2 linked regions of the Homo sapiens genome follow. The protein of the gene in region 1 purifies or fractionates together with the protein of each later gene. This does not show direct contact. Each region holds a gene or a part of one and is shown on either strand. Other genes may lie near its edges. The genes, in order: GAREM1 and EPS15L1.

Region 1 (3,817 bases):
TGTAAGCCCAGCTACTTGGGAGGCTGAAGCAGGAGAATTGCTTGAACCCAGGAGACAGGAGTTACAGTTAGCCAAGATTGAGCCACTGCACTCCAGCCTGGGCGACACAAAAAGAAAAAAAAAAGATGTAAGTGTCTAAGCTCACTGTTTCGGTACCATTTGGTAAAACTCACCTGTGATTCTGGATTAAATTAAAAGTTCCTGGCCAGATGTGGTGGCTCAGGCCTACATAGTCTCAGGTACCTGAGAGGCTGAGGCCAGAGGATCATCTGAGCCCAGGAGTCTGAGGGCAACCTCAGCAACAAAACGAGAACCCATCTCTTTTTTTAAAAAAGTAAAGTTCCTTTCCAAACTCCTCCAGTCCCTCCGAAGCCCAATCTTGGTTAGATTAGTCAGTTTATAACACTTTCTGTCTGATAAAGACCTTTCGCCACCTTTCTATAACCTGCGGATTACCAGATCAATAACCTGGAATACTCAAAACGAAACACACTCAAGTCACCCAGAGCATTTCTCTCAGCTTCTTCTTCTGTACAAAGACAATAAAACCTGCTGCTACCTAAATGATATGCTATACTCTGAAGCCTCCCTCAACTGATCCGTATCTACTACAGCCATCTCACACATGTATTTGACATATATTATTGCATTTAATTCCTATAATAAGTAGAATGTAAGCACCACAAAGACATACAGTTTTGTCTGATTTGTTCAGTGCTATAGTCCCAACACCTGTAACAGGGCTTGTCACATAGCAGGGGCTTAGTTAAGTGTTAGTTGACTGAATAAACAATTTACTGAATGAAGAATAGGGGCAAGTATAACGTCTAGTTTTCCTACACGGGAAAACTACAAATCAAAGGGATTACAAGACCTGACCAAGATCACATGACTATGAAATGGCAGTACCTCTAACAGAACGAAGGTCTCTTGGCTCCAAATCCAGTATTCTTTAAATTATCATTCCCCCCACCCTGGCCATGTGTACTCTCTTAAAATACAGAATGCCAGGAGAAATGAAGCCACAAGATGAACACCGAACATCTTCCAAGAGCAAAACTAAGTTACTTTGGGAAAAAGAAAAGAAAAGAAAAAGAAAAAGACATCAATTACAAAGTAGATTTTGAGAACTTACTTCAATTTCAATGATAAAACATGGATCCGAGAAAGACCTCTGATGTTTACAAACAGCCACTTGGAGCCTCCCTGGGGCCTAAGTGTCCATGTTTTTGCTCCTAGAGGCCAGTAAATGATAAAGCTGCAGAAGCCTCTGAGCACAAAGTAAGGACCAAATTTCCCACAGTCCCAACACATCCGGGACTTAGAATCTGATCTGATTCCTATGCACAGCCAGGAAGGAGAGACGGTCACTGCTCCTGTTCTACCTACTTAGCAGTCTCCTACTCTTTTTCTTCCCTCTCCCTGCCTTTCCATGCAGCCTTGGTCTTCCTTTTCCTTTCAGCAAACAGGGCCATTAACACATCTTTTATTGTGCTAGACCAGCATTCTTTAAACTGGGGTACATGTTTGGGGCAAAGCTAACACTTCCCAAGGGTCTCATCATCACAACTGTAAAGGAATCAGTTTCTACATTTGAAATTTCCAAACGTACTCTTGTTTAAAAATTAATGGGCTTGGGTCCACGCTTGCGTTGGACATCCATCCTGTGATGACCTTCACTGTGATGGAAGGAACCTGTCGTTCACCATCTCCCCTTCACAATGGTTCTTCACTCACTTTACAAAAGTAATGCACTTGTATTACCTTCTCTACATCTTTCTAAGATGCATTGCCTGAGGGTGAAAAGACCTTGGGTAGAGAAACAAACAAAGGAACAAAAATATTGATTCGTGTTGCAGGGTTAAAGTCTCCACTATTTAGGTAACAACTATTTCTGTTAAGTCAGGTAATTTCCAATTCTTTGTTTTAAAAACAACCAGAAATCATTAAATATTGAAAGTCTTATGATCAAAATAAATACGAAATACTAGATTTCAATCTATATACTTTTTTTTTTGGTTACAGAGAGTATGGCAGAGTGATCAATAGAATACTTTCAAGCATAAAAATATATTACACTGAGACAGAATTCTATACAGCGGAAGAGAAATGGAGTAAGAATTTAAAGAGATAAAGAAAAGGTGTAAAATGTTTAACTTTCAAAAGATTGATTCTTGAATCTCATGAATTTTTAAACAAATGATATTAGAAATCAAATATATATTTTACTAGAGTTTTTAGAATGATGTAATACTTTAAAATATGAATAGTTACAATATGCTGAGAAATTACATCCCCTGCAAGCATTTAAACTTAGAATGAAAAGTTTTAGCATTTAACTGAAAAATGTGCTTAGGGACAGAGTTTCACCAAATCTTTTAGGAGGCATAGAAGCAAAAAGGTTGTAAGAATGCTACTCTAACACAAGCCTTCAGGGTCTATCCAAGATGAAATGAGGAGGAGAGAGAAAATGAACAATTTCCCACCCATCCAGTTTTGAGTGAGGATGGTTGGGGGTGGAGGATTAGTATTTTCTCCATCCTCTCCTTGGTCCTAAGCACATTTGCTGAACCCAGTTCTAAAGTCAACAGTTTATAAGACTGATGATCAATCAGTTTAAATATCTGATCTTAATTGCACTGCTGACTGGGCTTAGACCTCAGCTGATGAGATACATCTCATCAAATCTCCCAAGGAGAATTGCTAGAGTACCTTTCTCTGGGTTCTCCAGAAAAACTTGTGGGGCAACATTTATAAAGGCTCAATTATTTTGTATTTATCTTATCATACAAAGGCAAATTTCACCATCAAGGATGTAATATTGAACACATCTATCTACCTGGCACTTCAGGAGTGGCATGTATAATGCAAAGAATTGGAGAGTTCTTTATATATTGTGTAGTGAATATTCATTCTAAGGATGGCAAATGTCCTGAAGAGTCATCTCAACAGACACATCTACGTTACTAGGCCCTCAAACCCCAATGTTTTTTTTCTCCTGTTCTGTAACCTCTTCTTCCCCACTGCCTCTTGCCTCTTTTCAGCCACTCCTTTGGCAAGCAGAAAGTTGTATGTATGATGGATGAGGCCAGCACTTAATTTGGTGTCTACACTGTTTTTAAAATATTGACTTTCCAGTCCTCAAGCTCTCAGAGAGACAGTGAACCTATTTAGAGCAGATGTCAGAACAACTTCAACCCTTCTCTCCTTTAGTACCAGGAGGTAGCCCAGTTTGAGATAAGAGGTCAGTCTTCAGAGTCAGAAGGTTGGCTGGAAATTCCACTCCACCATTTACTAGGTACGAGTCTTCAGGCAAGTCAATTTTTCTGAATCTTAGGTTCCTGAAGTTCTTAAAAATTGTGTTGCTGAGGATTTGAGACAATACATATTATGCATCTAGAAATGTACCAGCCCATAGTAGGCTTCTGATAATCAATAGTTGTGAAATTAGATTTTTTAATGTTCTTTAAAAATTATTTAAAATTAGCCAATCATTTCCTCTTGGCATAATGTCAACTAGTGGCATGTTTTTCAATTTTGTTCTAGTCTCTTTAAAAACAAGTGATTTGAAAAATGACTATCTTTCATGTCTAAGTATAGGGTGGGCGTGTGCAGATGTAAAATGTACCTGCAGTACTAAAACTGGGGAAAAGGCAAACACAGGATGAGGACAACACAAAACTTAAGATTTCACCTATAACATTTATAAATATACCAGCATGTCCTCAACCTGTCCTAAACTGTGTGAAACATGTTTAAAAACATGCAAAGAATCTATGATTGACTCTTTTAAAGTCTACCCAAATTAAACTGCTAT
Region 2 (3,817 bases), on another chromosome or scaffold:
ACTCTAGATAAAGCAGGTTTTGTTTCTGGCTTTTATTAACAATGTCACCATTTTGTATAGACCCCCAGTGCGCATCTAGGGTCAACAAAATCAAACTCACTGCCGTTGTAAAATATTTATAGGTCACCAAGAGCCAGAAACAGGTCAGGGTCTTGGGCGATTTAAATAAGCCACATGGGCCAGTCACGTGTAACCCCAGTACTTCAAGGTGGGAGGATCGCTTGAGGCCAGGAGTTCCAGACCAGCCCAGGCAACACAGCAAGACCCTACCTCTACAAAAAAAAAAAATTAAACATTAGCCTTGCGTGGTGTTGCACGCCTGTCGTCCCAGCTACTCAGGAGGCCAAGACAGGAGGATCGCTTGAGCCCAGGAATTCGAGGTTACAAGTGAGCTCTGATCGCGCCAATGCAGACCAGGCTGGGCAACACAGCGAGACCCTGTCACTAAAATAAATAAATTGACAAATAAGCCATAGGATAGCTGTGCACGGTAGAGATTATCAAGACGGCTCAGAAACAAATCGGGTGCTTTCTGTGCATTGACATGGCAGGGCTGTGTTCAAAGAGCCATCCCAGGAGTCGAAGCATCTATAAATAACACATCTCACACCTAATGATGAAGGAACTAACAAGCCCAAAGGAAGAAAGCGAGGGCATCACACATAGTGAAACCAATTCTGGGAAGACAACACCTGAAGCTTTCAGAGAACAAGATTTTCATGTATCAAGGAAGCTGCTAAAAACTCCTTGAAGCGACGGCATGTTACAATCTGGAATATTTTTTCACACAGAGAAAAACAAAGCCAGGCTTTCGAAATCCCGAGATTTGCTTCCGAAAAGGCACTTAACTTTGCTCAACAGTTTTTTGGAGCTCTTTTTGTTTTGGCTTTCAGAGTGGCTGTTCTAGACTGGATTTCTTTTTTCATTGGAGCTGGTAACTGAAATTTAAAAGCTTTAAAAAAAAAAAACTTCAAATTGCTCTTCCCTGGCGCGATCTGCCTGAAGTCCTTCAATTTGCACTTGTGGCACAAAATGCATGGGGCGGGACTGTGAGAACTTGTGCACAAAGGGCTTTTTGGGGACAGCAGAACCCTAATGTAACTTTCGCAATCTTCTTTTCATACTTCGGAAGTGTTTGACATCTTGGCTTCCAAAAACCAGTGAACACAACAGCCTCGGTGCGTCAGAAATAATACAATGAATCTACCGTGAAGGACAGATAGGTCCCGCCTCCCTGCTGGAAGAAAACGTGCCCTTATGATAGAGCATCCAAACTGCGGCTCTTTTTTTTTTTATTGAGAAACTGTTTTTCTTACAGAAGTGGCAGTGTAGAATAAATAACGCGAGGGACAGAGAGTGTGAGGTACCAAGAGGCTAAAGAAGCTGGGAGGTTTGCCTTTAAAAGGAGACAAAAATCCCAGGGAAGCTGCAAGCGGAAGGGAGTGGGGTGGCCCGGAGGCGGAGGACTCAACTTACAGAGGTGAAGTCTGCAAAGCCCGAGGCAGAGGCCTTAGAAGGTTTAGCTGCAGAGGAGGGGACAAATGGGTCTTTTCCACTAAACGGGTCCCCAAACCCCTTTTTACTTTGGAACGGGTCGCCGCTGTCAGCCCCGAGTGGCTGGAATGGATCGGGGGCCTCGGGAAAGTCTGCGGAACCAAGCTGGCTTACAGGTGTACTTTTACCTGGAAAGTTTAGGAGAAAAAAAAAAGGAGAAAGAAAGAAATATGAGTTACTCACCCGGACAGAGCAGAATGCTGGTGGGCACAAGCCCGGGGCGCTTCTCTGAGAAAAGCTTGTAACTTGGCTAACAGGCTGGACGGGGGTACCCTGGGGAATCCCAGTTTTAATCAGCTTTATCCCAGGGGCTTAACGGGTTGTGAACAACACAGGAAAAACACTTCAGATGACTCCCATACACAACGCACACAGAGCAGCTAAAACTTGAGTTGTCCTAGAATAGTTTGCATGCAGGTACGTTTCAAACAGATTCATTTTAGCATGGCAACACATTTATTAACATACTAATTTAAAAAATCATGGCTGAGCAGAAAAATACACTGCAAGCTTCTAACAGTAAAAAAAAAAAAAGGCAGAGGGGAGAGTTACTTGCAAATGAAAAGGAGGAATTAGTTTCACAACGTGGTATGGTTATTCGGTGTGTTAGTTATAAGGGTCTGCACACAGCTCTGCCATGCTGAGGTTTAAGTTCTTTTTTTTTTTTTTTTTTTTTTTTTTTTCAGAGACAGAGTCTTGCTCTGTCACCTGGGCTGAAATGCAGTGGTGCAATCATGGCTTATTGCGGCCTTGGCCTCCAGGGCTCAAGCGATCCTCCCACCTCAGCCTCCTACAGGCATGAGCCACCATGCGTGGCTAATTTTTGTATTTTTAGTAGAGATGGGATTTTGCCATGTTGCCCAGGCTAGCCTCAAACTCCTGCCCTCAAGTCATCTGCCCGCCTCAGCCTCCCAAAGTGCTGGGATTACAGGCATGAGCCACTGCACCTGGCCTTAAGTTCTTTTTTAGCCCCCACTTCTGTCCCTCTGGTGTTGGTGGCTCCAAGGGGCAGCGTTTATCTGGGCCTTTCTGGGCTTCTGCCAAGCAGGGAACTCCAGGATGCCCGGTCCCAGCAAGGTATATCTTGACAGGGAGGTGAGAGAGAAGTGTTCAGAAATGGAGGAAAATGACACTGTGTGGGGGACATGGCCTGAGGATGGTAGCTTTTCCCAGTGCATCCTGCCAATGTACCAGAACATTCCACCAAGAAGCAGAGGCCTGTTAAGATCTGCTTGGTGACGGGAGGTCCCACCTGACGGGCCTTCCAGCATCTGCAGTTTGCAGGCCAGCCGGGCTGACTCCATGCTCCTGACACCCCTCTATCTGCCCAACGGAGTCCCTGGGCATTCAACGTGGTCCACGCAGCACCCCAGACTGGAAGCTCAATAATATGCAACACGATTCCGGCGTGTTAACTCTGGAAGTTTCGAAGCTAATGTTTAGAAAAAACCAGGAACTGCCTGTCCCTCCAGGGTTGACCTTGGATCTCTGGCTGCACCTCCAGAGAGCACCCTGGCTCCCAGCCACACCTGCCCCGCCCACCACCTGAGCCTGGGACACCTGCCTTCCTCATCCGGTAGAACGAGCCCACACAGGCCAGCCTCGGTCCCTCTCCATGCCCAGATCTAAAGCCTTTCCCTCTGTTCCCCCAGCAGATCAGCCATCCCAGGCCTCATTTTTGAGGCCCCAGGTGTCCTTGTGGGCTCCGGGGCTACAGCCCCCATCTGCCACCTTTAGCTCTGGGCCTCGGCAAGGGAAAGTGCCTCCTCCCAGCTGGCCTCCGTTTCCTTATCTGTGAAGTGGAAATGAGAAGGAGGGCGCCAAACAAGGTGACATTCCTGGGGTCCAGGAGTCTCCTCCCACTCAGTGTCCTGCACCGCCGTGCCCAGCATAGGCCAGTGAGAACCTGGCCCGTAGCCCCCCCTTGCCTGTAGCCCTACTTCTGGAAATGGAAATTCACTTTTCTCTCAACCGGCAGTTCTGGGCCAGCATAAGGACTGCTGCTTTCTTTTTGCATATTCAAGGAAAAACAGTCTTCCTTCCCACGGTTTGCACAGAAGGACTCGGAGACAAACTCCCCTGCAGCCCACCCTTGCGGCCTGCCTGTCCGCCTCTGCCCGTCCCACAGGGTTCCACCGGGGTCGCCGTTGCATCCTTAGCTGACCTCTGGCCACCAGCTGCGGGAGATCCTTCCAGACTCCTTGTCTGTGTGAGTCCATCTAAGAGGCTCCTCCTCAGGGTTGGAGGGCGAGCTGTCCTGGGC

The links.
Region 2: the proteins of GAREM1 (region 1) and EPS15L1 purify together in Homo sapiens (affinity purification with mass spectrometry; one large-scale study listed by BioGRID and IntAct). This does not show direct contact.

What each region holds. Positions count from the first base shown.
Region 1 is NC_000018.10:32,464,167-32,467,983, forward strand, and holds part of GAREM1 (GRB2-associated and regulator of MAPK protein 1), read right to left. Parts: intron 1-3,817.
Region 2 is NC_000019.10:16,360,303-16,364,119, forward strand, and holds part of EPS15L1 (epidermal growth factor receptor substrate 15-like 1), read right to left. Parts: intron 1,683-3,817; coding exon 1,477-1,682; coding exon of another isoform or gene 1,468-1,476; exon of another isoform or gene 1,276-1,467; intron 1-1,275.